Linked DNA regions of Homo sapiens: regions 1, 2 and 3 are each linked to region 4. The links come from fine-mapping of genetic effects on gene expression. A gene starts in region 4. Each other region holds a variant in brackets. All regions are shown on one strand. Distances are from middle to middle. Region 1 overlaps SSUH2 (ssu-2 homolog). Region 2 overlaps LMCD1 (LIM and cysteine rich domains 1). Region 3 overlaps LMCD1 (LIM and cysteine rich domains 1). Region 4 holds the start of LMCD1 (LIM and cysteine rich domains 1).

What was found.
Region 1: its variant is fine-mapped to the expression of LMCD1 in whole blood (TOPMed, PIP 0.90).
Region 2: its variant is fine-mapped to the expression of LMCD1 in atrial appendage (GTEx, PIP above 0.99).
Region 3: its variant is fine-mapped to the expression of LMCD1 in whole blood (TOPMed, PIP 0.93).

Annotation. Positions count from the first base shown.
Region 1 is chr3:8,624,379-8,632,484 of GRCh38, forward strand. It overlaps SSUH2 (ssu-2 homolog), which reads right to left. Exons shown (of 12, transcript NM_001256748.3): 5 at 7,671-7,731; 6 at 6,427-6,551; 7 at 5,286-5,348; 8 at 3,320-3,405; 9 at 1,851-1,943; 10 at 1,164-1,269. Among named protein-coding and RNA genes, the nearest start is that of SSUH2, 16 kb to the right of the region's middle. RefSeq lists an enhancer at 5,145-5,234. The variant C/G (reference allele first, on the strand shown) is at 4,914.
Region 2 is chr3:8,558,459-8,566,564 of GRCh38, forward strand. It overlaps LMCD1 (LIM and cysteine rich domains 1), which reads left to right. Exons shown (of 6, transcript NM_014583.4): 5 at 6,974-7,189. Among named protein-coding and RNA genes, the nearest start is that of LINC00312, 9.3 kb to the right of the region's middle. The variant T/C (reference allele first, on the strand shown) is at 3,099.
Region 3 is chr3:8,524,946-8,533,051 of GRCh38, forward strand. It overlaps LMCD1 (LIM and cysteine rich domains 1), which reads left to right. Exons shown (of 6, transcript NM_014583.4): 2 at 7,792-7,880. Among named protein-coding and RNA genes, the nearest start is that of LMCD1, 27 kb to the left of the region's middle. The variant G/A (reference allele first, on the strand shown) is at 4,479.
Region 4 is chr3:8,498,179-8,506,271 of GRCh38, forward strand. It overlaps LMCD1 (LIM and cysteine rich domains 1), which reads left to right and starts at 3,645. Exons shown (of 6, transcript NM_014583.4): 1 at 3,645-3,802. The coding sequence starts at 3,761. LMCD1-AS1 (LMCD1 antisense RNA 1) reads right to left here and starts at 3,480. Exons shown (of 4, transcript NR_033378.1): 1 at 3,293-3,480; 2 at 372-671. RefSeq lists enhancers at 299-1,232, 1,233-2,166.

The DNA of each region.
Region 1 (8,106 bases), 130 kb after region 4:
CCTAGGGATGGTCCTCAGTCTGAGCTGAGCCCAGGGGGAAATCCCTAACTCAAATGGAAGAGTGGGGTGCAGGGCTTCTGGTGGGGGGATGCCTGAGGTGAGCCTTTAAAAAGCCAAATTACTGGAGCAAAGAAAGGAGGCTGACACACCTCCCTATAGTTTGAGGACCCCCATCAGAAGTCCCATTGAAGCCAATCTCTCTGCCAAGGCCAACGGCAGAGTGAGAAAACCTTTTCTGCTAAGAACCAAATAGTAAATACTTCAGGCTTTCAGACTATGTAGTCTGTCATTATCCAGCTCTGTCCCACCATCAGGAAAGCGGCCATAGACAACCTGTCAGAAAATGCGTGGGGCTGTGTTCCAATAAAGCTTTATCGACAAAGGCAGGCAGTGGGCTGGGTGTGCCAACTCCTGGCCCGCAGGACCCTCTCCTCTGGCTGAAGGTACCTCTCACTTCTGAGCTCCTAGCTCTGCCCTGCTCACTGCCCTCTGCCAGTCCTCAAGGCCTCTGCCCCACTGTCCCCTCGCTCCCACGCCACAAGGTCCACTCCCCAATTGCCCTGCATCCAGGTCTGTGCCCAAGGTCACTTCCACAAAGAGGCTTTCCCACCTCCAGCTGGAACGACACTGCCACCCCTCCCTGCCCCTTACCCTGCTTGAATGTTTCTCAGTGCCCCTTCACCATCTGACATTGCTATAAAAGGGTCCATCATAGTCCCCTCACCAGACTGTAAGCTCTATGAGGGCAGGGTCCTTGTTTTATTTGCCATGGTCTACCCAGGGCCAAGAATAGTGCCTGATATAGGAGGAGGGTCTCAAGATTTGTGGAAGGAAGGAGGGGATGAGGAAGAAAGGGAAGGAGGGGATGAGGAAGGAAGGAAAAGAGCGAGGAAGAAGGGAGGGAGGGAAAGAGAGAAAGAGAGTATTAGGAAGGAAGAACGGCATGGTGGGTGGGGAAGGACAGAGGGCTGAGTGTGTAAAAGTCAAAAGGAAACTGACAGCCCCCAGGCTCCCCACAGCCTTATCCATGTCTGGGGAGCTCTGCTCCTACACAACCTGTCCTTCCAAGGAATGCAGCCTGCACACACAGCTAGCAGCCCCAGGCCCACGAGAGCAGAGGAGGAACCCAGCTTCCTTTGTTCCCATCTACAATGCCCTCTTACCACCGAGTTTTCATCCTTAAAGAGGTTTTCTCCTTTGGCTTTAGCAAGGAGCTCCCTGGGGCAGTTGAGCCGGTGCTCAGACACAAACTCAAACAAGCTGTTCTTCCTGGAGGGAAGGAGGATGAGGGATGAAAGCACACAGTGTGGCAGGTTAAAAGCATGGCCTTTGCAATCAGACAGACCTGGGGTTGAGGGCTTGAATTGCTACTGGAGGGACCTTGCAACAGTTCTGTAGCCTCTCTGAGCCTCAGTCTCCTCACCTGTAAAATGAAGCTAGTAAGGAGAGTGACAGTTCAGCTCCATTACCTCATTTCATCTTTGCCTACAAAGCACTTAGCAAGGTGCCTGAGACAGGAGAAACCTTTAATGCACGGAAGCCCTGACTGACTTAGGGACGTAGCAGGATGCTATGGCTCTATTCCTACGGGAAGGGCTCAGTTGTGGAGCGGCTGCTGCCCTAGAAAGTGGTGATGGCAGAATTTGGACTGAGGTCTGTCTGTTCTAAAGCCAGTCAGCATCCCACAACCCCACACTGCCTCTTCCAAGGGAATTCTCCCCCTTCTAAGTCCTGGCAGGTTCTTGCACTGTGAAAGCCCCAACCAACCACAGTTTCTCTGCAGAAGCCAGTCCAGGGCTAAGTCCCTCAGCCACCCCCGCATGCCACAGCATTGAGACACTGCCACATACCACATGATGACAAGCTGGATGAAGTGCAACAGCTTCTTCTCCCCCTTGCAGGTGGCGCAGGTCTTGTTCCCTCTCCCTGAGCAAGTGCTGCATCTGAGAAAGGCACAGAGTCCGTACCCCCAGATCAGTTGCAGGTCCTGGTGGCTTCCAGAGGCTCCCACCTGCACCCCCTTCCTCCTGGAGGTAGACTGTGGTGGGCCTGCATTGTTTGTACCTGCCCACCACCTAGTCCTCCTTCTGCTGGCAGTGCCCCAATATCTCTATGGGGATCACCCTTCCCCCACCCAGCCCACATGGCTCTAGGGCCTGCCCCCCCCCCTCCCCCACCACTAAATTCTGTGAACAGCTTGGGATCTGGGACTGGCCAATCATCTTATTCCATGTCCCTGGTCTCAGTGGCTGATACAAAGATGGGCACATGACCCAGGCGAGTGCAATGAGATCTGTCCCAGGATGTTTGTCGGGACTATCGGGAAAGGGACATCTTTTCTCCTGGGATTAGTAAGCTTGGAGCTACTGGTGATCTCCTCTGCCACTACAAGGAACCCCCTGCCTGCAAATGAAGCCCACACAAAGGAAAGCAGAGTGAGAGGTGGATACAGATTCCTGGTGGTGTTGTTTAAGCACCCGGATCCAGCTGGGCCTGAAGCCATCCCTGAAATATACCCCTGGACTTCATTCTTACCTAGGCCTGTAAATCGACTTTTTTTGCCAAAGCCAATTTGAATTGGATTCCTTTCACTTGCAAATGAAAGAAAAATAAGTGTCTTTTTCCCAGTCAGAGACTGTCTCTACCAACCACGATGGAAGGTGCCACCAAAGCTTCTCCAACTGGCTTGTCAGAAGGATGGCCTGGGCTTTAATGAGGCAAAAGTATCATTAACCAACCCAACCTTGAGTATTTTTACTCCTCACGGTTTCCTGTTTCCCTTAAAAAGTTATAAATACACTAAAGGATAGGATTTACAAAATGCAATGGCCCAGTGTTTGCAAAGCTGTGAGCAGTGATGAAATTTTGTTTATTGTTTAGTCAATCAACCAACTTTCCTTGACTCCTCCTCCATTCAGACCCCAAAATGAGTTATAAATAGGGGCTTGCCCAGGAACTGATCCTCAGTGAGTTAAAAATCTGGCCTTTAGGTGGTTTTTGATATTCACTTCCCAACCCGTGGGCGGGAGAGGTCTCCTTTCCTGGTAACCCCGTCCCTGTGTTTCCTCCCTGCAGTGGCTCTTTCTTCACACTCTTTCCACATATATTGCATGACGAGTTCCAGCCTTGTCCAGAAATGCCAGGCCTTGAGAAAAGCTCACCTACTCTTCAAATAACCACAGAGCACCTACTACGTGCAGAGCTCTGGGGACACAGCAGTGACGAGACAGATGGGTTCCTGTTTGCCTTCCAGATGGGCAGGCAATGAAAAGCCAGAAAGCAAGAGCACTTCACCGCGGTGCTGGGGAGATGCCCCTACCTTCGCCTGCCGGACCCCGCGCACAGCTGACATCTCCGGGACTGCTTGGCTTTGCGCTTGGCTCCGCAGCAGGATGGGCACCGCACCTGCAGACACACCACTGCCTCAGCCCCCGCTGGCCTCCCAGGAAGCAGGGCCAACGGCATCCCAAGACCTGGTTCAAATCCCAGCCTGGTGACCTTCCTCCCCCTGGGCCTTAGCCCCTTCATCTGTAAAATGGTGCGGGGTGGAGATGGGGTATCTTTGGATCCTTCCAGTTGTAGCTTTCAAAGCCTCCACTCCCTAAGATCCCTGTTTCTTTTGAGACATCAGCCTCTCCTGCCTCTTCTCTGATCCCCACAACCCCTGAGACCTGACCCCTACCAAGTGTTGAGAGGAAGCTGGGACACAGGCGCTGGTCAGGGGCCTGGCACTGGAGACAGGGGGCTCCTTTTGAGAAATGGCCCCCAGAAAAGGCCTAGGCTGTGCTCCCAGTTGGGCTCATGGTGGGCTCCAGAAACATTCCAGGGAAGACCACCGCTGGGACCCACAGGCAGTGCAGGAGTGAGCTGGGGATGCAAACCCAGCAGGCGAGGGATGAAAGGGCTGGTGGAGAAGACAGTTCACGGTAGCCAGGGTCAGAGCATGGCCAAAGGATGAGGCTCGAATCAGGACACCAAAGAACGCGAGAAGTTTGGTTTTACCCCCTGGGATTGTTAATAGGCCTGAATGAAGGTTTCTGAAAAGACAACTAATGCCATGAGTAATGCCACTGAGGGGCCTGTGCTGGGTTGAATAGCGGCCCTTCCAAGTTCAAGTTTACTGGAATCCCAGAGTGGGACCTCATTTAGAGATAGTCTTTGCAAATGCATTTAGTTAAGATGAGGTCATATGACAAGGTAGGGCCTAAATCCGATGACGTGTTCTTATTAGAAGCCCATGTGAAGACAAAAAGACATGCAGGGAGAAGGCTGGGTGACAAGGCAGGTGGGGACTGAAGTGGCACAGTCACAAGCCAAGGAACACCAAGGACGGCCCGCAGCTCCCAGAAGCTGGGGGAGAGGAAGGGGATGGCTTCCCTCTCAGTGCCTCCAGAAGAACCAGCCTAGCCCACACCTTGATTTTGGAATTCTGGCCTCCGGAACCGTGATATAATAGGTGTCTGGTTTGTTGCTGTTGTTTGTTTTTTGTTTTTTTGAGATGGAGTCTTGCTCTGTCGCCCAGGCGGGAGTGCAGTGGCACGTTCTCCGCTCACTGCAAGCTCTGCCTCCTGGGTTCACGCCTGTCTCCTGCCTCAGCCTCCTGAGTAGCTGGGACTACAGGCGCCCGCCACCATGCCCAGCTAATTTTTTGTATTTTTTTTTAGTAGAGACGGGGTTTCACCGTGTTAGCCCAGATGGTCTCGATCTCTTGACCTCGTGATCTGCCCGCCTTGGCCTCCCAAAGTGCTGGGATTACAAGTGTGAGCCACCACGCCCAGCTGTGTCTGTTGTTTTAAGCCACCCATTGGTGGTCATGGCTTACAGCAGCCGAAGGAAACTAACTCAAGTGTCACTGTCTACTTTGTCTCTCCAAGCCTTCCAAACTTTACCTGCTCAGCACCCACTGCCCTGCA[C/G]GACAAATGGAGTTGCTTGTTGGTTTCCCTGGCTGACAAAGACTGCCTGGTAAGAAGAACCCCAGGTCTTGGCCCTCTTACAGGACCTAGAGGTCAGAGCCAAGCAGGTATTCAGTGTATGTTGGTAGATGGATGAGAAAATAAGAGAAAAATTAAAATCGAACTGTCAAAGTGAAAGTGTCATTAGAGACCACACAACCCCACTTTTTCATTTTATAGACGGGAAAATGGAGGCCCAGAAAGGGAGGATGACTTGGCTGAGATGACACAGTTACTGCAGGGAGCCTCAGGCCACCAGCCCAGCCCGCTGTCCCCAGGATCCCCCGGCCACCACACCCTCACTGACTCACCAGTGGTTCACAGATGACTCACCGTGCCCGCCCCGTGGCAGCCGCTGCACTTGTACCGCCCACGCCCATGGCATTTGTGGCATTCCTGAAAGTGCAACGCTTTCTTGGGATCTAGTTTCCCAAGGGCCACTTCTCCCACACCCATAACATCACCATCTAAACCGAAGGTGGAGTGGATCAGGACCAGGATAGGAAGATGGCACAGGAAAGAAATGGCCCTTCCCATTTGACTAAGATTCCAGAAGGCTTGACTGCATCAGGAGATCATGTCACCATTTCCTCTGAGCCCTAGCCCAATCTGGATGCCATCAAGGGGAGACGTGTTCTGGGAGCCCCATATCCTAGCTCACACTCTACGGTTTCCTACCAGGCTGAACTACAAAGGCTGATGGCATTTGCCCATAAGGTAGCTAATGTGGTCTTTGGGAACAGAAGCCATTAAAAAATGGACAGGATTTTTATGAAAGGCAATGAGCTAGCTACTAGTATTTAATCACTAATTTAAAATAGCCTTGGCCCCCTTGAGAAAGGAATAGAACACTTTCTCGACCTCTCAAAGTACTCTTTATCTTAGAACTCTGTAAAAACTCATAGAGCAAAATTGCACCCTTAAATCCAGTCCAAAAGTGTAAAGCAGGCAGTAACCGGAAAAGAACACAATATGAGCTATCTCAGTCGTGTTTTTGTAATCCACTAGGCTCCTCTCCCTTCACGCCACGAATATATGTCCATAAAGCAGGATGGAAGTCAGATTCTGTTTCCTTACTGACTCTCATGCAAAATCCCAGCAGGGTTTTAAGTTTTTATTTTATATCAATTTCATTCAGCCCTTCAGCTGTTTAAGCTAAAATAAATTTTTAAAAAAGATGAAAACTACACTCAACCTGTCCAGGAATGTCACTGCTCACTAAAGCTGGTGACGATTTGTAAATCGGATGATCTGTTTGCTAGGTGAACACTCCCAGATTTGCTTGGAATTTTATTTGGGACTACATTCCATATACCAGGTTTTATTAAATTACGTTTATTTATAACCAACAAATGAAGCACCGGCCTGAATTTTGGGTTTCCCTTCAAAGGATGAGTTTGAGGAAACATGCAGTGCCTGGAAAGCCTCTCAGGGAGAAGGGCAAGTATTCCAGTAATCGCGTTAATCGTATTACCTTGACCAGTGACGAGTGAGGGACCTGGAACTTCCTGGTGTCTTCCTGAAACATCGGAGGACCTTGAACCTTGATGTCCCAGAGCCTGGGGGAGGCGCCTCTTTGCGGCCCATCCACAGAGTGGTCTGACACAGAAAGGGGTCATTGTAAGAATGACGAAGGGCAGCAGGGATAAACTTTCATTTATCCAGCAAACAGCATGAAGCCTTCAGTTGGTGCCAGGCATGAGTCTAGATCCTGGGGCTACAGGGATGGATAGTCAAGGCCTTCCTTGGAGGCAGTGACTAAGCAACCAAGATTTAGAGAGAGACAGATCTGGGTTTGACTCCTGGCTCTTTTATGTCCTAGCTGTTTGACTTTAGAGAAGTTTCTTACCCTCTCTGAGCTTCCATTCTCTCATCTCTAAAATGGGGATAGTCATGGCACCTACCATACAAGATGGTAGTGAAAATTAAACGGAAGAATGTATATAAAATTGTTAGCACCAGGAATGGCACATACTGAGGGGATGACACACAAGAATTGTCACCATTATCATCACCATCCCCTTCACCATCCCATCTTCTTCCTCTTGCTCTGTTCAAGGAGACAGACAGCACACCATCACAATAAGATATGATAGGATATGATACATGCTTTGGACAAGAGTTGCATAAAGGGCTCTGAAAACTCAGAAGACTGGCCCATCCTGCTGGGAGGGGAGCAGCAGGAGGAGAAATCCTGAAAAGCTTCTTAAAAGAAGTGACACGTGAGCTGAGTCTTGAAGAATGGACCTGAGCGGTCTGTTAGGGAAAACAAGGAGGACATAGATCTTCCCAAAGAGAGAAGCTTAGGCCTCCAGTGGGGGCTCAGCAGAAGGTGGGGTGGCAAGGCGAATGGGGAGCACAGGGGCCTAGAAGCTTAGGAGGAATTAGGGGTGGCATGAGGGGGTGTAGGTGAATGCTTAGACACGCATGCTGCTTTACAGCCCGGCCCCGTGTGGCAGCACCAGACTGTAGCAAAAGCAAATGCTTGGCTTTTTCAGGACCTCCTGCTTCCTGGGCAGGAAGCATTTCCTAAGATAAGCACTGGAAAGTCTCTGAGATGAAAGTCCATCCTCTCATTTTGCAGGGGGTAAGGAAGCCAAGGCTCCAAGCAGAAGACCATCTTATTTGAGATGAGTGCCTGAGCCAAGTCCTGATATTTTCCACCAGCACCCTGACTTATTTGCCCCCAGTTAAACTAATTTCAGACAATTCACTTACTAGTAAAGGGTTGAAATGTCCACTCGCTTATCCTGGATTCACTAAAGGTCTCCAGACGGTACTAAAAGGAAAAAAACAGCATGTTCACACTCGTGCCCCTTATGAAGACAGAGCATTATGCAAAAAGATGAAGCTGTTACCCTCCCAGGGCTCAGTGGGGAAACTGAGAGGTCCATGCACAACACCCTCGGCTGCTGGAACTGGCTGACAACAGCGATTTCTGTTCCACGTGCCCCCATGTCTGCAGGGAAGTCAGCCAGCCCCAGGAAATCTCCCCTGACAGGCTCAAACTAGAGCTAATTCAGTTCCCCATGAATTTATACAAAGATTCTATGAGACAAGCTTCAGAGCAGTAGCTGTCTTTGATAGATGGAGGTCCCTGGAATCTATGGCTTTGAGATTTCCCTTATGGAGGAATTTATCTCCCTGATATCAA
Region 2 (8,106 bases), 60 kb after region 4:
TTCTGAAAGGTTTGTTTCACACATCCTCTACCCAGGTGGGAAATAGTCTGCAAACAAGGTCACATGACAAATGTTGGAAACGTTCTCACGAGCAAGCTCCAATCTTAGATATTTGGGAACATGAACAAGAAACAACTGATATGCTAATTATAAAGCATTCTTCTCCATGCCTTTTACCATAGTCCCAAAGAACTTCCATTTGACCATACTAGCTCCTTAATAGGGGAAGTAACCTGAGAATGGCCTCATTGGTCTTTCTTAAAAAATAGTGTTGAGTTTAAACATCCCAGGAATTCAAATGAGCCTTTGTTGTAACTGAACTGAATTGGTGATATCAGTTTTGCTGAGCTTATGTATAAAGTTATTTTTAAACAGTCTATAACAGCGGTTCTCAAAGTGTGGCCCCAACCACACCAGCATCCCCTAGGAACTTGCAAATTCTTGTGCCCCACCCCAGATCTACTGTATCAGACACTGTGGGGAGGTGGTGGCGGTGGGGGAGCAGAGATATGTTTTAACCAGCCCTCTAGGGGATACTGAGGCAGGCTCAACCCTGAGAACCACTGTCTCCAGGGGCAGGATCAGATATGGGGAGGAGCAGGCCCTCCAAGCAGGGGATGAGTGGAGCTGAGTCTGGAGCAGTGGCAAATGATGAAAAACTCACACGACTCGATTCTCTGGCCTTGCACAAATGGAGAGAACTGATAGGGGAAAAAATAGAGCTCATCAGTGGCAGGAATGACTTCCTGCTAGTCTACATGCCCTTGGTATCATGGAAGGAAATCCAGGCCTCCAAACCTGCCTTCAACATATCTTTGTCATTTTAGGAAAGTGGTTTAATCCCTCTGGGCTTTACATTTCTAGCCTGCAAGGTGGGCAGAGTTAAGGAATACACGAGATTTTAGCAAATCATTATTGAGCCCTTATAAAGTCCAAAAATTCCATTATGTCATTTAACTCACACCACAATCCTATGAGGTTGCTATCATTACTATCGCCATTCAACAGGTGAAAAAACAGAGGCACAGGTAAGTTAGTTCATTTGCCCAAGGTCACACAGCTATGAACCCAGGCAGTCTGACTTGGTATCTCCCCTCTCAGCCACCTGTTGCAATTTAGAAATTGCAAACCTCGCTACAAAGAATTGTGGGAGAGACTAAGTTTGTGCTGAGAAAGGGCCAGGATGATGAGACCCAAGTAGGCTGGCATTCTGACTCTCGGCTGCTAGCTTGTCTCTCGTGGCTGAGGGACCACCAGACGATAGATCCAGGACAACCTCAGGTCTCTCATCCTTTGAGATGACTGAGTTAAGGATACAGAAAATGGCTTAGAGGCAAGAAGAGCACATTTCATCCTGACACATGTTGAGAGGGCTCCTTACCTGGACATCTTGTTTTCATGGAGTGATAATGATACTGTTTGCTTAAAGGGGCTGGCTACTGGTAGAAACCAGTCCAAGAGCCAGGGATGCTAGGGAGAACAGTGAGGGAAGAAATGCTCCTCCAAGAGGGGCTTCACAAAGTGCTTTCCAACGGATGAGAAGGTTGCAAACAAGCTCTGTGAACAAGAATTTTCCTTCCTTCCTTCATACTGCTGCGAGAATATCTCCCTACAGTGCAAATTAGAACCTTGAACTCCTCATCTCAAGAACCAGTAACGGGTTAGGTGCAGTGGCTCATGCCTATAATCCCAGCACTTTAGGAGGCCAAGGCGGGAGGATCCTTTGAGCTCCGGAGTTCAAGACCAGTCTGCGTAACATAGTGGGACCCCATCTCTACAAAAAATTTAAATATTTTTAAAATGTCTTAAAAAGAACCAGTCGTGGCTACCCATTGCCTCCAGAGTGAAGTCCCAACCCATAACCTGGGTTCAAAGCCACCCATGATCACCCTAAACTGCCTTTTGGACCTGATATCCCCCTCCTTCCTTCAGTGTATCATCAGGGTGCCTGCCGGTGCTCCCCAGACCAATCCAGGTGCATTTCTATCCCTCTCCCTTTCCCTACTTTCATGTCAATTCACATTTGTAAATGTGGAGTGGGGAGCCCCATTGATATATCATGGTGTTACCCAATGGGGTGTAGTTTGGTGAACTGACACGAAGTCCCTTTTGTGTGGGAGGGAAAGAGCTGGAAATTTCATTCTGTAGAAATAAGAAGCCAGACAGACAACTCACTTTGTATTCAGACAGCCCTGGCCAAAGAGTTTACAGTTCCCAGCTATGCAGGAGGGAGGGTGAAAATAAGTAGATGATGACTGGTCACTGATTTTTTGTCTAGACCCCCTGATGGGCTCCAAGCCAGCTGAGTCTCAATCATGTGAAGAGGAACAGGGTTTTCATTTGAGCGAAAAACTCACACCACTCATTCTTGGGGGTGTAACTGAAACCACAAATCTAGCATGTTCTAAGGAACATTATCAGGCACAGTCAGGATCCAGTTCAAGATATATCTAGTTGACCAAACACATTCCTTATATAGGCAGTCATTCAAGAGCTCCTACGCTCAGAAACTGCTATCAGTACATGACGTTCCTTGTTATTCAGTGTTCTTTTCCTAATTTTCACCATTTTAATGTTTATTTCCTCTTCAATATATGAGTATATTAAGTATGTAATCAAAGTATATAAGTTAAGAATAGTAAGTGTGCAAACTCTTATGTGCTTCCCTGTCTTCACATGGCAAAAAAGTAAATATTTCTATTTTGGCTGAAACATAGTTGATACTTACTAAGTTTAAATTAGCATCTAAAGCCAGGCTCAGCAAACACTTTCTTTGGAGGGCCAGGTGATAAATATTTTAGGAGATGTGAGCCAAGAGCCAAAATTGCAATATCATGTGGGCACTTTATGTAACAAGAGAGAAAACAACTTTCCATGGGTTTTTTAAATGAAATTCAAAAGATAATAATAATTGAGCACAGAGTTTTTTTTTTTTTTTTTCCAATATAGGTCTACTAATGAGAAAAGCAGAAGGGGTTCTTTCTTGGGAGAAAACATTTCACTGAATTGGAGGGCAAATGTAAAATCCAGTCTTCATTCTCATGGGGCTTGCGAGAACAGACAGTGGCTGGGTTTGGCCATGGGCCGTAGCTTACTGA[T/C]GCCGGATCTCAAGTCCACATGATGGAGTAGAAAGAACTTTGGCTTTGGAGTCAGGTTTGGCCTTTGTTCAAATCCTAGCTTTGCCTCCCATCAGCTGTGCATTACTGAGCAAATCACTGAATCTCCCTGACCTTCAGTTTTGTAATTTCTAAGAGAGAAGATAATGATTTTCCGAATAGAAAAATAACTCTAGAAGGAGAAATAACTCTCTCGGGCTTATGTAAGGGGTAATAGTAATGCGAGCAAAGTCCTGAGCACAGTGCTGGATGCAGACACGCTGTAGGGACATGACAGCCATTGTCGTTTCCATCATCATCGGGGCTTACAGGAGCAGGGGATAACTCCAAAATGACTCAAAAGATTGTGTGGATTGAGAATGTCAAGTTCCCATTCTTTAGAGGATGAGAATAGGCAAGTTATAAATGTGCGATGGATGGATACCTGAATGAACCAGTGAATGAATGAGCATTTAGCAACTTTCACTGCTCCTGGGAACTGGCAGAAGACAGAAATCTAGAGCTCTCACAGAGAACTTCTCCCAGGCACACTCACCCTCCCCACAAAGCCCCAATCCTAACTGAAGCTGAGGAACAACATGAGTTGAGGTCCACCTTGTCATGGTTTCTGAGCAGGCCAGTGAAAATGTTACTGGCAGTAAAAGACAGATAAAGGAGCCCCAGATGGAAAGAGGATGACAAACAGCCAGGCACTGGCTACATTAACTGCTGAGAGGCCCTGTAGGGAAGCTGCTTCTCACCTCTAGCCATTGGGCATGCTGCTCCTTTGCCATGCCAGAATGCATTCTCCTGGGAGCCCTCCTAGCCCTTCAGACAATTCCCTGAGTTTAGTCTCCCCACCCGACCCAGCTCAGTTCCCATAGAAAGCCACAGAGCCAAGGGCGGCAGTTTGAATCCCAGCTCTGTTTCTTGGCTGTGCCCCCCTTCACAAGCTATTTTGTCTCCTTGGGCCTCGCTGGTCTTATCTATAAAATGAGTGCATTTCCTGTGTACCTACATCTCCTATCCAGAGGATTGCTGTGAGATAAATAGGAATGTGGTTGATCCCTAGAGCCCCTCATCCCTCAGAGAGGCCTCTCCTGCTAAGGTGGTCCCTGCTATCCACCCCCAAAGTCACTCTCCATTCCCTTACCCTGTGATTGTTTTCCTAGTATTTATCACACTCCATGATTATCTCATCTGTTTTTTTATATATTTATTTTCTGCCTCCACACACACAAAGCTCCAGTTTCCCTGAAGGCTCTGGCATTATCTGCCTGGGTCACTGCTGTATCCCCAGCATCTAGTCCAGGGCCTAGCACACAGTAGATGCTCAGTAAACATGGATGAGCCCCTGAAAGGCAAGAGTGTTTTGAAAGCTCCCAAGAACTTTCCACAACTGTCTCTGGAGCCCAGCTCTCTGCTGCACTTAGTCTAAACCTGTCTCTAAGGTGCAGACAGATGCATCATCTGCTAGTGTCTTCCACACTCATCTGTTGTCCCCTAAGTAGGAAGTATGAGGTGGGAGGGCAGAGGTTTCCAAATATTTATTGTTCATCTACTATGTGCCTGGCACCGAGGAGATGTGAAAGCAAGCATAGTTGGATGTGGCTCCTGCTTCCATCTAGTGTAGAAAGAACAGGTATCAAACAACCATACAGAGAAAGGTAAGCAGAGAAGCTTTATTATGGACTTAATTGCCCCTGGAAGGAGGTCAGAGAAGATTTCCCAGAACCAAAGATCTTTAAGTCTCACATCTGAAGAATGAAAGGGAGTTAATCAGGCAAACAGGAACGGGAACAATGTACCAGACATCCTGAACAGCAACGGCAAAGGCCTCATGGCAGGGTGGAGCATTCCTTCATTCAGCAACTATTGATGGGGAATTTATGTGTGCGGGGCCCAGTAGAGGGTCCTGGGTCAGAGCTGCAACCAAGCAGCCTCTCTCTGCCCTCTGCAGCTAGCCGCTTAGTGGAGAGAACAGATATAAATTAGATAATTCCATAGGTATTTAAAAAATAATGTTAGCTAACATACATGGAGTCCTTTTGGGGGATCTGCCAAAATCATGCATGGGTTCCAAATAACTTATGTAGATACTTGGCCCTGGAGGAGATGGAGCACTCTTTAGACATGGAGGGCTTGGTGACTTCCTTCCAAAGAGGATAGTATGGAAGTGGGGAGAAGAGTCACTTTACAGTGAAGAATCTGACAAACACTGCCTCCACCAGAAGGTCAAAGTCAACCGCAACAGTGACAAGTGAGGGCGACAGTATGTACCCTTGAAGGATGTGATAAGAGGAGCAGTTTGCCCCGTGATCTTCCTCCCAACGTACTCATCATAGTAACATCAGGCAAATCCCAACTGAGGGACATTCTACAAAACACCTGACCAGTACTCCTCAAAACTGTCATGGTGGCCAAAAACAAAGTCTGAGAAACTGTCCCAGCTAGGAGGAGCCTCAGGAGACATGACAGTTAAGTGAATCTGGGATCCTGGAATAGAAAAAGGACATTGGGTAAAGTTTATGAACACGTGAATAAAGTTTGGACTTTAGTTAATAATAGCATATCAATATTGGTTAATTAATTATGACAAATATACCTTATTAATGTAAGATGCTAATAACTCAAGAAACTGAGTGTGGAATATATAGAAATTCTCTGTGCTGTTTTTGCAATTTTTCTGTAACTCTAGAACTACTCAAATATTATTATTATTATTATTTGAGACAAGGTCTCACTCTGTCACCTAGGCTGGAATGCAGTGGCACGATCATAGCTCACTGCAGCCTCAAACTCAAACTCCTGGGCTCCAGCAGTCCTCCCACCTCAGTCTTCTGAGTAGCTAGGACTACAGATGAGCACCATCACAACTGGCTAATTTTTCAATTTTTTTGTAGAGATGGGGTCTTGCTATGTTGCCCAGGCTGGTCTCAAACTCCTGGCCTCAAATGATCCTCCTACCTCCAGTTCCCAACGTGCTAGAATTAAAGGCATAAGGCACCACTTCTAGGCAAAAATATTATTTATTAAATATTATTTAAAACTCTTCATGCACGGGTAAAAAGATCCATTCAAAGTGCAAGGTAAACAAACAGGTTTTAATGTAAACAAATATGAAAGGTTCACTGATGTGCTTTCAGATTTCACACTGCAACTAACTTGAGAAAGTATCCTGTGTCAAATTTTACTGTAGTATCAAAGAAGAATATCCACAGTTGCCTGGAAGGTCCTTTAAAATGCATCGTCCTCCTTTTTCCAACTTTATGTCAGTGTGAGTTCAGATTTTCTTCATGTATTTCAACCAAAACAACAGCATGCAAAAGATGGGCTGCAGAAGCAGTTATGGGAATCCAGCAATCTTCTGCAAGTCATTGAAGAGATTTGCAGATATATAAAACAATGTCTTAAAATTTTCTTCTACTTTTTTTGTTTTGAAACATATAGTTATTTTAGTAACAAGATAGGTATGTTAATGTATTACAGGTTTAGTATTGTCATTTTTAAATGAATTAAAAAAATTTAAATTGTTCTCAGTTTTAATTTCTCTTATGGTAAATATCAATAGCTATTACCCACATGAACAAAAACTCTGTAGGGGTCTTGATAATTTTTAAGAGTATAAAGGGTACTGAGACCAAACAATTTGGGAATCACTGTGCTAAATAAATAACTTTATTTAGTCCTCGTGAATAGCCTGTTAGGTAGGCAATATTATTGTGTCGCTTTGCAGATGACAAAACTGAGGCACGAAGAGGTATAGTGACTTGCCCAAGGTCACCCAGGAAGTAGAAAGGCTGGAGCTGGAATTCGAACCCATGTCACTGTGCTCTCCTGACTTCCTTGTCTCCTATGGTCCTTCCCCATCCTTCCAGGTCTGCGAGCTCTGCAAGGGAGCGGCCCCTCCTGACAGCCCCGTGGTCTACTCGGACAGGGCAGGCTACAACAAGCAGTGGCACCCCACCTGCTTTGTGTGTGCCAAGTGCTCCGAGCCGCTGGTGGACCTCATCTACTTCTGGAAGGATGGTGCACCCTGGTGCGGCCGCCATTACTGCGAGAGTCTGCGGCCCCGGTGCTCCGGCTGCGATGAGGTGGGAGATAGCCGCGAGATGGGTTAGGGGGCTTGAGGGACACTGCTGAGGGTAAAAGCCCAGAGGCCAAGAGGAGCATGGCTTTGTGGATGATGTGTTCTACAGATTGGGAAACTGAAGTCAGGCCTCACTGCATGCTCTCAACCTTCATTTTCTCATCTGCAAAATGAGGCAGACAACCATGGGATTGTTGGGAGGGGTCAGACACAGTGCCGGTGAATCTTGTCCTTGGCATAATGCCTAGCACTTAGTAAGTACTCAGAACATAGCAGGATGAACCAGGAGGCATTGCCCACGTTCAAACCTGTATCTGCATCTCTTATTATTATTATCATGTGGTTACCTAACTCCGGAGCCTCAGCTGAGTCTCAGTTTTACTACTTATAAAATAGGGATGAGACCAGCGCCCATCCCATAGAGTGGCTATGAGGATAGATGAGATAATGCATGAAAATGCTTGCCACAGGGCCTGACCTAGGAACTTATAAATGGTAGCTGCTGTTAGTCTTACGATAATATACTATAATATGAGACTTAACATTAATATGACACAATACAATACAATATGATAGAGATGCTATGAAAGAGATTCAAGTCTCTGATACTGGTTTGATGAAAGTAACTCTAAGGTGTATTAATAATGGCAATACTAATTATGATCATAGTATGTACTATTTGCATGCCTTTGGTTGCAGGCAATATACTAACTTCATCTTTGGCATGTATGAAGGTTAGAAATGTCTTCTTTATATTGAACCAACATCTATTTTCTACCACCTTCTACGAATTGGTCACCATATGAAGTTAAGACCCTGTAGTCCTCTTACCTAATAACTCTGTTATTAAGTGATATTAAGAAGGAAAAGGACTGTCACAGGCCTGCCCTGGAGCCTCATTTTTGAAGTGACAACAGTATA
Region 3 (8,106 bases), 27 kb after region 4:
AAGTGCTGAGATTATAGACGTGGGCCACCGAGCCTAGCCCAAATTGATGTTTTGATATTCATATACATTGTGTACTAATCAAACTAATTTTTTTACATGGTGAGAATACTTAAGATCTACCCTGTTAGCAAATTTCAAGTATAGAATACAGTATTGTTAACTATAGTCATGATGCTTTACATTAGATCTCCAGAACTTACTCATCCTGCCTAATTGAAACTTTGTACCCTTTGACCAACATCCTCCCATTTCTCTTAATCCTCAGCCTCTGGCAACCACAGTTCTCTTCTGTGTTTCTATGAGTTTGACTATTTTAGATTCCACATATAAATGAGATCATTATTTGTCTTTCTGTGCCTGACTTATTTCACGTAGCATAATGTCCTTGAGTTCATCCATGTTGTCATGAATGGCATTATTCTTATTCCTTTTTGAGGCTGAATATTATTCCATTGTGTGTGTGTGTGTTTGTGTGTGTGTACGTGGGTGTATGTGCCACATTTTCTTTTTCCATTTATTTGTTGACAGACACTTAGGTTGTTTCCATATCTTGGCTATTGTGAATAGCGCTGCAGTGAACTTGGGAAGGCAGTTATCTCTTTGAGATACTGATTTCATTTCCTTTGGATGTATATCCAGATGTGGGATTTCTGGATTGTATGGAAGTTCTACTTTTAATTTTTTGAGGAACCTCATACTGTTTTCCATAATGGCTGTACCAATTTACATTCCTCACAACAGTGCACAAAGGTCCAGGAAGGGAGATTATTAAGACAATGAGCTGAGAGCCTAAAAGTCCAAGTTGGAACGGTTGAAGTTACAATGGTGAGACCAAATGATTCCCAAACTTGTCTGAACATTGGCATCCCCTGGGAACTTTCAGAAATACTGATGCCTGTAATCAACCCCCAGAGATTGTGGCAAAATTTGCCTGGAATGCAGCCCAAGTTTTGGAAGCATTAAAAGATCCCCAGGAGAGTTTAATGTTGCAGACAAGTTAGGGAACCACTGTTGTAGCCCCTCGATACTCAAAGCGTGGTCCCTGGGACAGCAGAAATGGTTTCTCCTGGGAGGTAGGTAGAACTATATGTCAGGCTTGCCCAGACTTGCTGAACCAGAGTGTGCATTTGAGCTAGATCCCAGGTGATTTTGTGCTAATCAGAGTGTTTACTTAATTTAAGGAGCACTCCCCTCCTCACACACCCAGAACAGGCAAAATCCCCTGCTAAAGGACAATCTCATGACACACTGTTTCTCCTTCCTAGCACTGATTCCATTTGTAATTTTACATTTGTGTGAGTTGAGAAAAACGTGTGAGGGCCCCAAAATATCTGGAAGAGGCTCTTTGGCATGGAACTGTAGTGCATTGGTTAAATTAAAATGTGGATCTGGAATTCAGATACCTGTGTCCAAATCTAAGCTCTAGCACTTTAATTTGACCCCTTTGAACCCCACTTAACTAGAGATACTGGATTTTTCCAGGCTTTTCTGGTTTTCATACTAAAAAGTTCTACATCCTAGGCACCAAACAGTCTAGTGCAAACCAGGACAGTTAGTTACCCTTCAGTTAACTCATATGCAACCTAGAGGCACTAACAATGTATCAGTGGTCTCAAACTTTAATTGTTTATCAAAATCACCTGGAGGTCTTGAACAGCGATGTCTGGGCCCCACCTGCAGAATGTTTGATTTCATAGGTCTGGGGTGAGGCTTGAGAATTTGCAGTGCTCACAAGTTCGCTGCTGCTGTGCTGCTGCTTAGAGACCACACCTTGAGAACCACTGCAACATACCTCCCTTGTAGAGTTGTTGTAAGATTTGTACAAGGTCAGCCTTCACACAGTGCCTGGAAAACCACAAATCCTAGTACTTGTTACAGCTACTATTGTTACTTTTGATTATGGAAAAGATGGGACTAAAGATGGTCCCTAAAGAGTCGGCAGGTTTTAAGTTCTCTGAGGTTTAGATGAGCATAAGCAAAATCCCAGAGTTTGCGTGGATTTAGTTCTGCAAGAGGCTCAGGTGGTTGGAAAGAGAATCTGGGTGGAAACAGTAAATAATATGGAAATAGAGACAAATTTGGACAGGTTACTAGCTGTTGAATCTTGAAGAAGAGCTTAACCTCTCTGAGCCTCAGTTTCCTTATCTGAAAATGAGGCTAATGAAATTATCTCATAAGGTTGTCAAGAAGTTTAGATGAAATATCATGAAAATGTTTGGCATGTGCCTGGCACATAGGAAGTACTCAATAAATGTTAACTATGATCATGATCACTGGGAAAGATAAAACACTTTTGATTAAAGGCCAGTATAGGAAAAGGTAGATTTAGGATACCCCACCACCACTGCCTTCAAAGGAGCTCCAATGGAGACCATCTGGATGGGCAAGTTGCTTCTCCACTCTCAGACTCAAGGTCATTCATCATCTTTTGACTGGGAATAATGATGATAATAATTATACTTCAGTGGGAAGTCATATTATTAAATAAGAGAATTACTAAGTAAAATCACTGAGTAAAATTCATGGCAGTAGGGTAGTTTCAGGGTCATATTTTTAAATACAATTCCAGTCCTTTCCTGGACCTTCTGATAATTTTATTCCACTCAACCCATCTCACTCCAGCTTCTCTCCCAGAACCCCTAGGGAAGGGTTTGTTTTAAATAACAAGTCATGTTGACCAATAATCTTTAATAACATGTATGCTTATAGAACTTAACCTGTAAAAGACACGTCTGCATTGAATAGAATTTTGTGTCAATTTGGAACGCACCACCTCAGAAAGGAAACCTGTGAGTAATCATTAGGGCGTGTGATAGTACTAAGATACCACTTTCAAAAAGATAGAATCACAATTGTTGTGCAAATATGAAGTGAAACTTAACAAAGATTGTGTTCTACCCATTAATGAGGGAACCCGTATGATATTTAGGCCAGTTTAAAAAGCGCTTGAGGAGTTAGGTATTTATAAGTAATTTAATGTTAGGACAAGATTGATGGGTTAGTTACAAAACTAGTTAATGTCTTCCAGAACAGTAAACCATAACATTTGGGGTTATCTTTTTTGAAAGGACAGAAATTGTTTGTGTCTCTATTGGACCAAGATCTGCAAGTTAACGTGTTACTTCAGAAAGACTTGGAGCTGAGCAAAGTAAATTTCTCTAGATAATCCTATGGGGATGAGGAGAGCCAGTGCCATATTGCCTCCATATGACATTGAAAGGATGTGCCACTCACCTTTCTGCCTTATGTCTGAGTTTTAAGTACTTTTCTAGGGGGCCGGGGGGACAGGATGGAGTGCAGTGGCGTGGTCATAGCTCACTGCAGCCTTAAACTGCTGAGTTCAAGTGATCCTCCAGCCTCAGCCTCTCAAGTAAGCTGGAACTACAGGCACATACTACCACACCTAGTTTTTTTTTGTTGTTGTTTTCCTGTAGGGATTGGGGTCTCACTATGTTGCACAGGCTGGTCTTGAGCTCCTGGCCTCAAGCAATCCCCCTGCCTCAGCCTCCCAGAGTGCTGGGATTACAGGAATGAGCCACCACATCTAATTATTTTTTTAACAATGGCAAATACTTATTTCAATTTACTGCCTTTTAATGTTACGTGATGCTTACAACAGCCCTATTGAGACAAAGAAAGGGCAGGGATAATTCATTTTTCAGAGGAGGCAATTGAGTTACTCCATGAGGAAGAAGCTGAGCTGGAAGGAGAACCCCCATTTTCTAATTCCAAATCCCATGCTCATCCCTAAATTCCCAGTTGCATTTTCTCTTTTACATTCCTCTTCCTCTCAACCCTACATTGTTCTTGGTGACATTTTTTTTCCCTCTAAGACTTCCCTTGGGATTCACCTGAAGGCAAATGCTTGAGAGAGGAGTCCCAGAGTTGCCCCTGCTCCTTGCATCCCCAGGGGTCTCCTGGTCTAATCTAAGTCCTTTTAAGTCCCTGCCACCATTCAGTTTCACGATAATATCAAATGAACCACATCCTACTAACCCAAGCCAAGGAAAATCGTCAAAACATTTCTTTCTGTTCTCGGGAGAAAGGACAGATTAGATGCTGCATTCCAAGAAACCTTTTTTTAAGTGATGGTTTCTTTTAAACTCTTCTATTCTCAGCTACTGTGAGACACTGTGCCGTCTTTCAAGAGACAGAGCCCACATCAGAAAAACCTACTGTTTATAAACCAGAGTATCTCACTTGGGACTGTGGCTGACTGATGTTTTCCCCTCCTCAGTAAACAAGATCGTTCTCTCTGTGTTGAAGATAGCGGGGTCTGTCTGGCTTCTGGATGAATGGCATGCAGTGGACAAATGACTATTTATTGCATTAAACAGTCAGCCAGGAAACTAGCTGCAAGTGTGGCCTGATGACCTGAATCAATTTCTTCCTTGCAAGGCCATTTATTTTTCTCTCCCACATACTTCTGTTGCCATGGAAACTGTCCCACTAGCAGATGGAGACCAGGGCCAACTCTC[G/A]CTTCCTGAACCTCCATTTAGTTTAGCGTTCTTGCCCAACTAGGCCAGTCGCCTGTGTCTTCACTTGCCTGACTGCATGGGCTTTCTTTGTGCTTGTTGAGATTTTAACGTCGATTCTCTTCAGGTGATTGGTAGCAGAGCACCGCGAGGGCAAAGGGCTAGGGATGGCCTCACTTAATGAGTTAATCATTAAGTATGGGACATGTGTGAGCTTATTTTGTTTTTACATTTTGTAGGAAAACCTAGTCAGAGAGGCAACTCTTTTTACAAGTCAAAAAAGTAGAGAATAAGAAAGTATAGGGGGTGTGTATTTAGAAAAAATAGTTCCTCTGAAGTCCCCTAGCATTTTGAAGCTAGAAAAAAATGTGTTGAGAATATCTAATTCAGGGTCTCTCAAACTTTTCTTCACAAGATGTAATTAATGACAACAACAAAGAACGCTCAGTGCATAATAAGTGTGTGCCAAGCCCTTTTCAGGCAGCATCCCGTTTAACCTCCTGGTAACCCTGCAAGGCAAGTTGCATTCTTGTTATCCCCATGACGCAGGTCATGGAACTCAACAAGCCTACTTGCCCAAGTACAGTGGAGGAAAGGGGAAAAACTGAGACTAAAACCCGGGACTAAAGCCTGGGTCTCCAAACCCGAAACAGTTGCTTGCTCTCTACCTCACTTCTTGCTTCTAACGTAGGCTGGCCTGTTAAAGGCTCGGGAGCCTCTACACATCCAGTGCCTGCCATTTGTATTTGATCAGGTAATTCTCTGTCCCACTCCCAACCAGGAACCACTTCGTAACATCTCACCAAGTGAGGATCCTGCAGAACAGAATGTGGGCAACCCCAGTGCAAGCCAGTTCCTTATTTTTCAGAAGAGATGCTTTAGGCTGGGCAAGGAAATGACTCATCTCCAGTTACACAGCTAATAAATGCCAGAGTTGGCACCCAAAGGCCAGACCCCCGCATCACCGGCGAGTGCTCTGCTCTGCTCTGCTGTGCTACCTACATCACTATTCTAAATCAAACCCCGAGTTTGCAGACAGATTGCAGCTCCACTCTCCAAGCCAAGCATCAGAACTAATCCCCTTGTAGAATGAGGGTTAAATCAGCCTCTCATTAGAAGAACAATAAAGCTGAAGTGTGCAGGGTGCTTTGCCACTTGGAAATGCTTCCACCTACCTCTCCGGTTTCCAGCCTTCTGAGTATATCTGAAATGGTCCAACAATGAAGCCTTATTCACAAGTTGTATATCTCCCAAAATAAACTTTGAGTGACTCCAATATTAAGTGTGTAAGGATCACTGCATTTCAACTAGGAGAACTGAAGGTGTCAAGGGGAGGTGGAAATGAGCAAGGTTATATGCCAGTGGCTTTAGGGAGCAAAGTCCTACCTGTGAAAGAAAGCTCCCAGCTTAGGAGAATGAGTTAGCAGTGGGTGTTGTCTTAATTTTCACTTTTCACATGAATCTAGCATTGAATAGGCCTAAATATAAACCTGCTTCCCTCCACACTCCACATATGTGCAACATGACTCTCACTCCCTGAAGCTGTAAATATGTATTGAACAAAATGACAAAGTGTGTGGGGACATGGTGTACACAGCAGTCACCAAATAGAAGGCATGGAGTGAGGCATTATTGTGAGAAGATTTGGTGCTGAAGAGAAGTATTGTGAAGGACAGCTGTCTCTTTCCATACGTCTGAATTCTACCACTGGCAATGAGGATGGCTTCACAAGTTTCACTGCTTGTATTTTCCCTCTTAAATGCAAAGAGAGTAGACTAGTAGCATCCAAAGGACATGCTCACATTGCATACCCTACTCATCATGCCTTTCATACCTTTTTTACCTTGCACATTTTCTTCCTTCTGCTAGGCATCTCCTTTCCCTTTTCTGCCTGTCCATCTTGCACAGCCCAAATCCAAAGTCACCTCCTCTAAGAAGAAGTAGTCTGCTCTAATAAACTCATATTTCCCATATGAATTTATTAACACTTTCCCCTGTGCTTCTAAAATCTGTGGCAAAATAAGAGCAGTTACCATGTCTAGTGCCTAATGTGGTCCTGCACGTTACTATATTATCTCGGTATCCACTTGGCAGATAAGGAAACTGAGGCTCAGTATGTCCAAGGCTAGGCAGCCAATAAGTTACTGAAAAGCTCGATTTGGAATCCAAGTCTCTCAGACTCCAAAATTCGTGCCTCTTTTACTACACAACATGCAGCTTCCTTTACCTCAGACTTGCCCCTTACAGGAGCAGGAGATGAATGTGTTTTTCTCTCCATATCCCCCTAGCTAACAGTGAGTTCCACTAGGGCACACCTGAGTCTTATGTTGTATTCCTGTGTCTGGTACATAGTAGATGCTAAATAAATGGTATGTTTGTTGGATAAGAAGCTTATCCCTTTACATTACTAGTTGATTGAGCCCTGCTTCAGGTGAAATCATAATAAAGTACATCCCTGTACCAAGTCGTCCCCACCCCAACCCCAATGGAGAGTTGGGTAAGTTTCTCAGCCAGCAGATCCATATTACTAACCCACTTCTTCTCCAATGTTAATGTAATGCAGATCTCCTGGGAATTTTGTTAAAGTACAGATTCTGATTCAAACAGGCTGGAGTCGGGTCTAAGGGTCTGTATTTCTGGCAAGCCCCAGGTGACGCTTCTGGTTTGAAGATGCCATTTGGGTTTAAACACCTCAGCAGCAGCAGCAAATGCACTTTTGGTACCTTTGGCTGGTAGCAAGTAATAAAACCTGTCTCATGCATTGTTCTCCTTCCAAAGGAGATTTTAAGTGCTCATGTGATTTTTCAGTGTTTTAGCAAAATATTTAAGTTATGCTTCAAGCTATAAACATTTGGCAAAATGCACATTTGTTTGTGCCTGTAGCTTTGGTTTAATCACACTCTATCAATAAATCACAAATAAATGAGGGAGAGGAGACACTCACTGAAGATTCCATTCCAGTGACAAGTGAGAGTGGGTGAGGGTGGGGGATGGAATAGATAGATGGTCACTCACAGCAGGGCGTTTCCAACCAGTCTTGCTGTTTTGAAACAGCACTGGAGGCTGGGAAAGAACCCCCATTGCATTCTTATTGGGAAGAGCCCCACCCTTCCACAATTGCCTACCCTCTGGCCCCATTCCATGTTCCTGTTTGGTCTTCTCAGTTCCCGGTAAACAGTTTGTGATGGCTTATTGATCTCAAGCCCTTTGAACCCCACACAGTCCCTTTGCCAGCACGCCAAGTCTTTTAGAGGTCAAGCATCTCCGGTCCAAGATGTTTGGAAGGAAAACACCCTCTTTTCTGTTCCTTTTCCAGATGTCCCTGGGCCAGCTGCAGTCAGCAAGAGGTGTGGCATGTTTGGGATGCAAGGGGACGTGTTCGGGCTTCGAGCCACATTCATGGAGGTAACAGATTTTGTCAGGAGGGTCCCTGTCTGCCTTTGTTACTTGGCTGTCCTCTCGGGGAACCCTGGTTGCTTTCTTCGCTGAGACTGCTTTGGTTGTATGCGTTGTCAGGGAAGGATGGCTGCAGAGGGAAGGCACTCCTGCTTGGTCCAATTCAGAAACGAAAAAAGTCCTTGGGGGAGTGTGGCGGGGGCAGTAAAGATGTGAAGAAGGAGTTTAGCACTTC
Region 4 (8,093 bases):
AAGAATACGAGACTCAGAGTCAAAAATCCCAGTTAGGACAAGCCCAGTGATAATGATGACAACAACAGCAGCATCTTAATCCAAGTGCTTCCTGTTTTGCTTATAATCAACCATCTGCAATCATTATGGAAGCAGTGCAGTATAGGTGAAAGGGTGCAATCTGAAGTTAAAAACTCTGAATTTAAATTTCAGCTCTGCCACTTGCCAGCTGTATGACCTTTGATACAGCCCTGGGACTGTTTGGGATTTCTGTTTTCTCTGAGACTAGTTGTCTTGGAGTTCAAGTAAGATTAGGGCTCTGTCAACCAGGGAGCCCCAGAAGTAGTTATTAGACCAATATGTTCTCCAAGGAGAAGAACTCTTTTATTTACCTTGATGTTTCCAGCACCTATCAGAGGGCTTGGCTTATGGCAAGTATCCCAAAACTCCTTGATAGATGAATGAATGCTTCTAATAATCCCGTGTCAAAAAGCGATGATCCTTGGAGAAATCAGATCTCTACTCTTTCAACTAGGAAAAGATATCCAATTTTCTTCCAAAGAGAAGTGAAGAGGACCTCAGAGCTGGAGTGAGGCTCAGGTGCAATAACTACATTTCCCTCATTCTCCTGAAAAGTCCCAAGTTGTAATGGTCTGTCCAGGTGTCCGGTTAAGTCTCTGAATATAGGTCCCCTGGAACAAGAGGGTCAAGTGTAAGGTTTAAAGTGTCAAAGTCAGAATCCTCAGCTGAGGAGACAGCAACTTCTAGCAGATAGCAGGGATCCCCTCTCTGCCTACAGCAGGTCTTTTTCCAGAAAGAAGGGAATGAGCCACCCCAAGCAACAGCTCCTGACACTCGTGTTCTGAGAAATTCTGAGAAACAGCTGCAATATCTGCCTCCTTAATTGTACCTGGAGCCAAGGGTAAAAATAAGGAGGGGGAGAGACTCTTGTGGTTGGAGCTATTAATAAATAGTGTTAACTTAATAAAATTAGTATTATTTCATGGAACAATGATTTTTCAAGATGGGGCAAGGAGGGTGGCTGGGAAGGGAGTGGGAAATGACTTCACTGGGCAGGCTTTTGCCTCGTTTGAAAGGGATAAAGCTTGCCTTTGTTATATTCCTGGCTTCTGTTCCCACAGCTCTAAAATATAAAGGCTTCTGGCATGACATCCTGATTTAGCACTATTGTTCCTAGGATTTGCTACTGAAAGGACTATTCATGTGGAAACCTCCTCTCCCAGGCCAGGCTTCTGTTGGCCACTGTTTATTTACATACTGGTTTAACATGCAGCCTACCTTGGAAGTTTGGACAAACCAGGCCAGGTGTGCCATTGCACCATCTCTCCCTATTCTTACTTTGCCTGCTTACTGCATGGAGGTAGAGAGTAGAAGAAGGTTACCAGAGGTTGGGAAATGGTGGGCTGGGGTGTGAGGGGATGAACAGAGGTTGGTTAATGCGAACAAACACTGTCTGATAGCAAGAAAAAGTCTAGCATTCAACAGCACAGTAGGGTGACTATAGTCAACAACAGTGAATTGTATACTTCAAAATAGCTAAAAGAGGCTAGGTGCGGTGGCTCACTCCTGTAATTCCAGCACTTTGGGATGCCAAGGTAGGAGGATCACTTGAGGTCAGGAGTTCAAGACCAGCCTGGCCAATATGGTGAAACTCTGTCTCTACTAAAAATACAAAAATGAGCCAGGTATGGTGGCTCATGCCTGTAGTCCCAGCTTCTTGGGAAGCCGAGGTGGGAGACTCACTTGAACCTGGGAGGCAGAGGTCACAGTGAGCCGAGATCGCGCCACTGCATTCCAGCCTGGGCAACAGCGCGAGACTCTGTCTCAAAAAAAAAAAAAAAAAAAAAAGAAAAGCTAAAAGTGATTTGACATGTTCCCAGTACAAAGAAATTATAAATGTTCAAGGTGATGGAAATCCTAAACACCCTGATTTGATCATTACACATTGTAAGCATATATCAAAATACCACATGTACAATCATGATGTATCAATAAAAAAAATAAAAGCCAGAACCCAACCTCTATTCATTTGCCAAATGTGTACTGTGCCTATACCACATGCTAGGTGTTTGAGGACATAGCTGGGAGCAAACAAGGCAAAAATCAATTATAGCAGAAATCTGTGAAAAAAGAAATAGGTCATCCCTCATCTTGGAAAAGATAAGCCACAAAAAGCCCTTTCCAGGAATATGTAATAAAAAGTCACAATTCAGGATCCCTGGCTGAGATTTGGGATGACTGGAGATGATGATAAGAACTAAATTGGAGGAGGCTTTCAAGAGGAAAAAGCCTCCAGCAAGAGACAGCCCCACAGTGGGAACTGCAGCCTCCCCTTCTCACCAAATCCCTCCCGAATGGTGTACTTCGGGACCACTCTTCAGTCTCTGTGCAACCGAGTTTTATTTTAGCCCACGGGACCCTGGTTTTTCTGGCAGGGGGCACTGCAAAGACGGGTTACAGGCCGAACACCTCACAACAGAGACAGCAGTATTCTCTCTAGGATAAAAAGGGCTTGTGTTTAATCCTCTGTCAGGGCAGGGGGGAAATGCCTCTGGAATCCAAGTCTGTGGAACCGGCTCAGCAGAGAGATGTGGCTTTATAGGCAAACAACGTGGCATAGAGAGAGGAACCTGGCCAATTCTGTCTTATAAGAGTAGTTATGTTATGCGTTGCAAGGACTCCACATTCCATGGATTTGTGAACTCAGATGGAATCTTGTTTGTCCAGGCCTGCATGACCCCATTTATCTAAAAATTACTAACTTCCTAGTTTATAGTTTACAATCCTGTGCCCGCCGCCTCCCTCCCCCCCCCCGCCACGCCCCCATGAGCTTTCTCTCTATTACTCTCAGTCTCTCAGGTTAAAGCCTTGCTCAGTAATTCAGCTGTGGACCAGTTATTCTGATTATTTCCTCATCTATCGTCTTACAGTCATAATAATAATAATATCTGAGATAATATGAGCATACAACAAGACAGTATGTCCACAGGAGCATCTCTAAGATCAGGACAGTGATTTCTTGCTCATGGAATAAGAAGGATTTATGTTAAAGCAAGTTATAAGAAAGCAGTTTAATACTTTACGAACGTTAAGTTTAAAAAAATCATAACTCGCTGGAATCTTTTCTCCTCTCTGGATATTGGAGAACTCGCCCAGGTTTGGGAAACGTTAGCCAGCTCCTGCAAAACACCTCCTCCCTCAGCCCTCCCCGCGCCCCCTACGACCAGGCAGAAAGGGTGGGAAGGGGAGCACAGCTCAGCATTTATTTCTGGATCCAGCTCACTAAAAATACCTCGGCTCTCCTGTTTGATCACTCTCCCTTTTGACCTGAATGGATCGCGGGAGCCGCGCCGCCCGCCCCACCTTCGGCCCGTTGCCCTTTAAAGGAAAAGGGCGTGGGGACGGATTCCTGCCGCTCGAGGGATAGAAGGGAGCTGGGTAGTCAGGGGCCGCGGCCATGCTGACGTCAGGGCAGCCGGCGCTCAGCTCCGCTCGCTGCCACAGTGCAGAGACCTCCCTGAGGGAGGGGGACAGCCTCGCGCTGGGATTGGCTGGCCTCGCGCGAGCGCCGGCGCGGAGTGGCTGGCGAGGTTTTAGAGGGAGTCCCGCTCTCCAATTAAAGCGGCCCAGCTGCGCCTGGCTGCGCACAGAGCTCCCTCCCAGGCCCGCGAACTTGGCCATTCAGCCGCCGCTGTCCCCGCTGCGCGCCCTCGCGCCTCTGCCTGAGAAGCCAGGCGCTGTTCCCCCACCCCAGAAGAGGATGGCAAAGGTGGCTAAGGACCTCAACCCAGGAGTTAAAAAGGTGAGTGGAAAGCTGTTTGTATTTACCCAGATTCTTACTTTTTCTTGTTCCCCTTCCCATCTGTTCGCGGAAACTTCCCAAAAGGTAATGAGAAGGGAACTCTTTAAATTCCAAAACTGCATGGAAAACAAATAGTTGGGAATACATGTTTGAGCTAACAGGCACACACACCCCAAACCCAATGTTGTGTAAAATATTTGCAAAGGGTCTTATGTCTTTGGTGATGCTAGTTAAAGTTTAATTAAGGTTTTACATATATATACAATATATATAAAATGTATATAAAATATATATATAAAATATATATAATATATATTATATATAATATATAAAATATATATTATATATAATATATATTATATATAAAATATATAATATATATTATATAAAATATATATAATATATATTATATATAAAATATATATAATATATAATATATATATATGAAATCTTATGGTCTGTAAAGGAAAAACCCCTAGCTTCCTCACTCCCTGTCCTCAGGTGGCTGAAGTAAGGGTTGAGAGCATGTAATATTTACTCACAGTCTCCCTTTTGCTATTATCCCAGTGTTTTGTGTGTTTCCCCCAATACACACACACACACACACACACACACACACACACACACGCACGCAGTTTCTTTAGTTGGTGATGTTGGCAGTGGCAGCAGTTCCAGCATAAGGGAACTGATTTCTGTCCCCAGGGTCTGCACGTTTCCCTTACAAGAAGGGCTGGCCCGGAGCCCAGAAGGTCATGGGTAAACTCCTGCACAGGAGCCTGCGGCTGTGCCTATAGCTCCAATACCACTTGTTGCCTACCTGAATGCAGCTGGGAGAAGGCACAGGCTGGAGACTTAGAGAACATGTGAACGGGAAGGGAACAGAGAGACAACCTAGGCTTTACAGATCGGGAAACTGAGGCCCGGGGTCACAGAGAGTTGGTTCTAACAGGCAGCTGACTGTAAGGCAAGCCCTAGGCATCCAGACTCAGTCCCTGCCACTTTTTAACTGCACATGATTCACCAGGTCACTTTTCTGAGCCTCAGTTTCCTTGTCTCTGATGTGGGGAGGATAGGCCTAACCTCCCTCATGGCAGTGGTAGCAGGGATACTGACACTGTGAGTTAATTTCCCAAAGCAGTCATTGTTAAACTCTGATTTCACAGGGTTTAGTCTTGAAGGGCAAAGTCTTCCTTAAATATCTGCCATTAACCTGCAGGGTAGAATGAGAGGGGGAAAAACAAAAGACGTGAGAATCAAACTAAAGACACAAACAGCCACTCAGAGGCACAGCATGCACTGTCTAATTTGTAGCTGTGCTCTTCTGTAGACCACCTGCCCAGACCCTGTCACAGAGTCCAGTGGATCCTTCTAAATGTGGGTACCAAGTCACATTGAATCTGGGCATTTGTCTGGAATGTATCATGCCTCACTGCATTTGCCAAGCTATTTGCAGAATCAAGTCATTTCCCCTCCTACAGAAATTACCATAACATTTTAGACTCTTAGAAGATACCTATTAATTGCTACCTAGTAGTGAGTTATGCATGCAATGCTCTTATTTCTCTATACATTTTTCTGGACTCCTTGAGGGCAAACCTGTCTTGTTCATCCCTGTTTGAACATAGCACACCATGCCACACAGCAGGACTCAAAAACCTGTGGGTGACTCATGAGAATATCTGTCCAGCTAAGACCACACTGTTTGCATAGGCTTCATTTTATGCATTATTTTTTAACTTGTAGCATTGATATTTGTGTGTCTGAACTGCCTCCCCAAGTTCAGACACAGAATAGTTCACGGCTAAAGGTGGCAGAGTTCCATTGTCCTCTGGAAAGTGAAATGATTCTGAGTATTTTTAATATAAGCTGGTTGATAGTTACTGTATGAGGTGAGATGAGGTATATGGAGACTCCTCCTCCTCACCACAGTCCTGTGTTGCCACTTGGAGGAAGCCTTGTTTTTATTTTCCTTTGCATAGGGGAGTGTGATTATCCTGATTAGAGGTGGAACATGTTCTCCTTCTTGTCACCCCCTAGTGCCAACTTCCTTGGCCTGCAAAGGGTTTGTTTTCCATTTAGATCCAATTACAGGCTTAGAGAAAGAATGTGGTGGGTAGAGATGAAAGGGCAGATTTTTTTTATCTCTTGGGACTGCGACAATCAGGAGGAAGATCACCATTTTGTAGGTTAACCAATGCCTTCAACTCAAAATGTGGAGGGGAGGGAGGAGAGCCGAGAAGCTCCCCTTGCTGAACTGAATGTCACAGAAGTGATTAAGTACTACGTGATATCAGCAACACGCTGAAAAGCTTTTACTGCATATTTATTTTTTAAATCTGCAACAGTATGTGGGGGAGGTTTATAACATTTGGCTTCAGGATGCATAATCGCACTTAGACATTTTGAAACAATTTCATAGACTCTTAGAGCTACAAGGGGCCTATTTACAAAATGAGAAATGGTTTAAAATGGCATACAGGCTGTTTCCGCTTCCCTACCCCCGAGGGGGCTGGGGCGGGAATCCCCACCAACTGGAAAGTCATAAAAAGATCTTCAGCAAAGAACATAAAATCTAAAAACTGGAGTAGACTTAAAGGTCATCTAACCAACCCCAGACAGGCTGGGGAAAGAGACTCACTGGGGGCCACATACATACATCGTGGCAGAGCTTACAAGTTCCCTAACTTCTCTCTTTCTTTCTAAGTAAAATGCTTCCACCGGCTGCTCTTGAACCATCTTTTTTTTTCTATTAGGAAAGAGAAGGTTTCCTAGCACAGACAGTTCCCTGAGAATGGTGAAATCGCCAACATTTCTTGGTAACAAAGGGCCTTGAAGGCCAAATGCCATTTTTCTGGGTGAAACCAATCTCGACTATGGATTTGTTCTTGTTTATTAAGGATGCAAGTTATTAGTGCAGGCTTTGGCTTCAGATCTGGTTTAAGTCCCAGCTCCCCCACTTACTAGCTGTGTGCTCTTGGGCAAGCTAATTAACTTTGAGTCAGTATCCTCACCTCATTTGAAAGTTGAAGAAACAGTAACAGCATCTACCTCCCAAGATGGCTGTGATAATTAAGTGAGATGATGTACATAAAAGGCTCAGCATATGGGCACTCAGAGTTAGCCATGGCAGTCCTTGGTGGTGGCGGTACATTTCAGTGGGTGCATGGATGCGGAAAGGAATTTTCTGGTGAATGAGGACACTTTTATTTATAACTGCCCCATCTGAAGAGCACCTAACTTTCATTCAGCTGAACCTAAGCCATTGCTCAGCTTTGACAAGCTAAGACAATGACCAAATGCTGTTGCCTTCATTCTCACCCAACGGGTGCAAAATCTGCTTACATGGAACAGTCTTTCCTTCTGAACATGGATTGCCAGTTATTGAGCATTTCACTTTGGAGTTATATAATGTTAGGCCTCGAAGGGGACTTGGAGTGCCTTACTTTTTAGATAAGGAAACTGAGGCCCAGAGGGATCAAGCTCCTTATCAGAAGTTGCAGAGAAAATGTACTGAAGCCTATTAGGCTCTGCAAGAATACAGACCCCTTGACTGTCAAGGAACCATCTGTAGGAATTTAGAAGGGATTAGAAGAAAGAGAGCTAGGAACCTGTTCATAGTTGACTGTGCAGTCACCAGTGGGCTGGCTCCAGAGGGATCCAATTAGAAATTCTCACCCCTCAACACAATGCCCAAGGGGCATTAAATGATGGTACTTCTAAGTCCATTGCCAGGTCCACCTGGATGTCTCTCTCCATGCTTCTCTACATCACATCCCTCTTGGCTTTCCTGTCCTTCAGGCTAGGCCTTCCCTCTGTACTCAGCCCTTCCTGCTTTCACCTCCACTTCCTGCAGTGTGCCAAACTACTGGCACATCACCCGGGTGAGCTGATCCAATGTAAACACAGCTCCTCGTGAATTGTCGTTGGCTCTCTCAATCTTAAAAACATATTAAACTGTCACTTAAAGACCTTAATAGCCAAGACATTGGAGACATGCCCATAGGTGTATAAGCAACTTTTTTGCCATAATAGAGCCTTGTTTTTTAAAAACAGAAATTATCCAAGTCCCTTTTACATGCTTTCTAAAAACAGATGCTGAAACCATTACTTTGTGAATTGCAGATTTTTGTCCTAAGCTGCAGGTGTGTCTGACTATGCGGAGTTGGGGGCTGACAGTTGACTTTCACCAATGTATCTGCCACTGTGGTAGTGGGAGGCAGGAAAGAGCTTCATCAGATTATCTTCAGGCTTTAATCTAAGCATCTCAGCTCCAAGGCTAGGAATTTGCTCA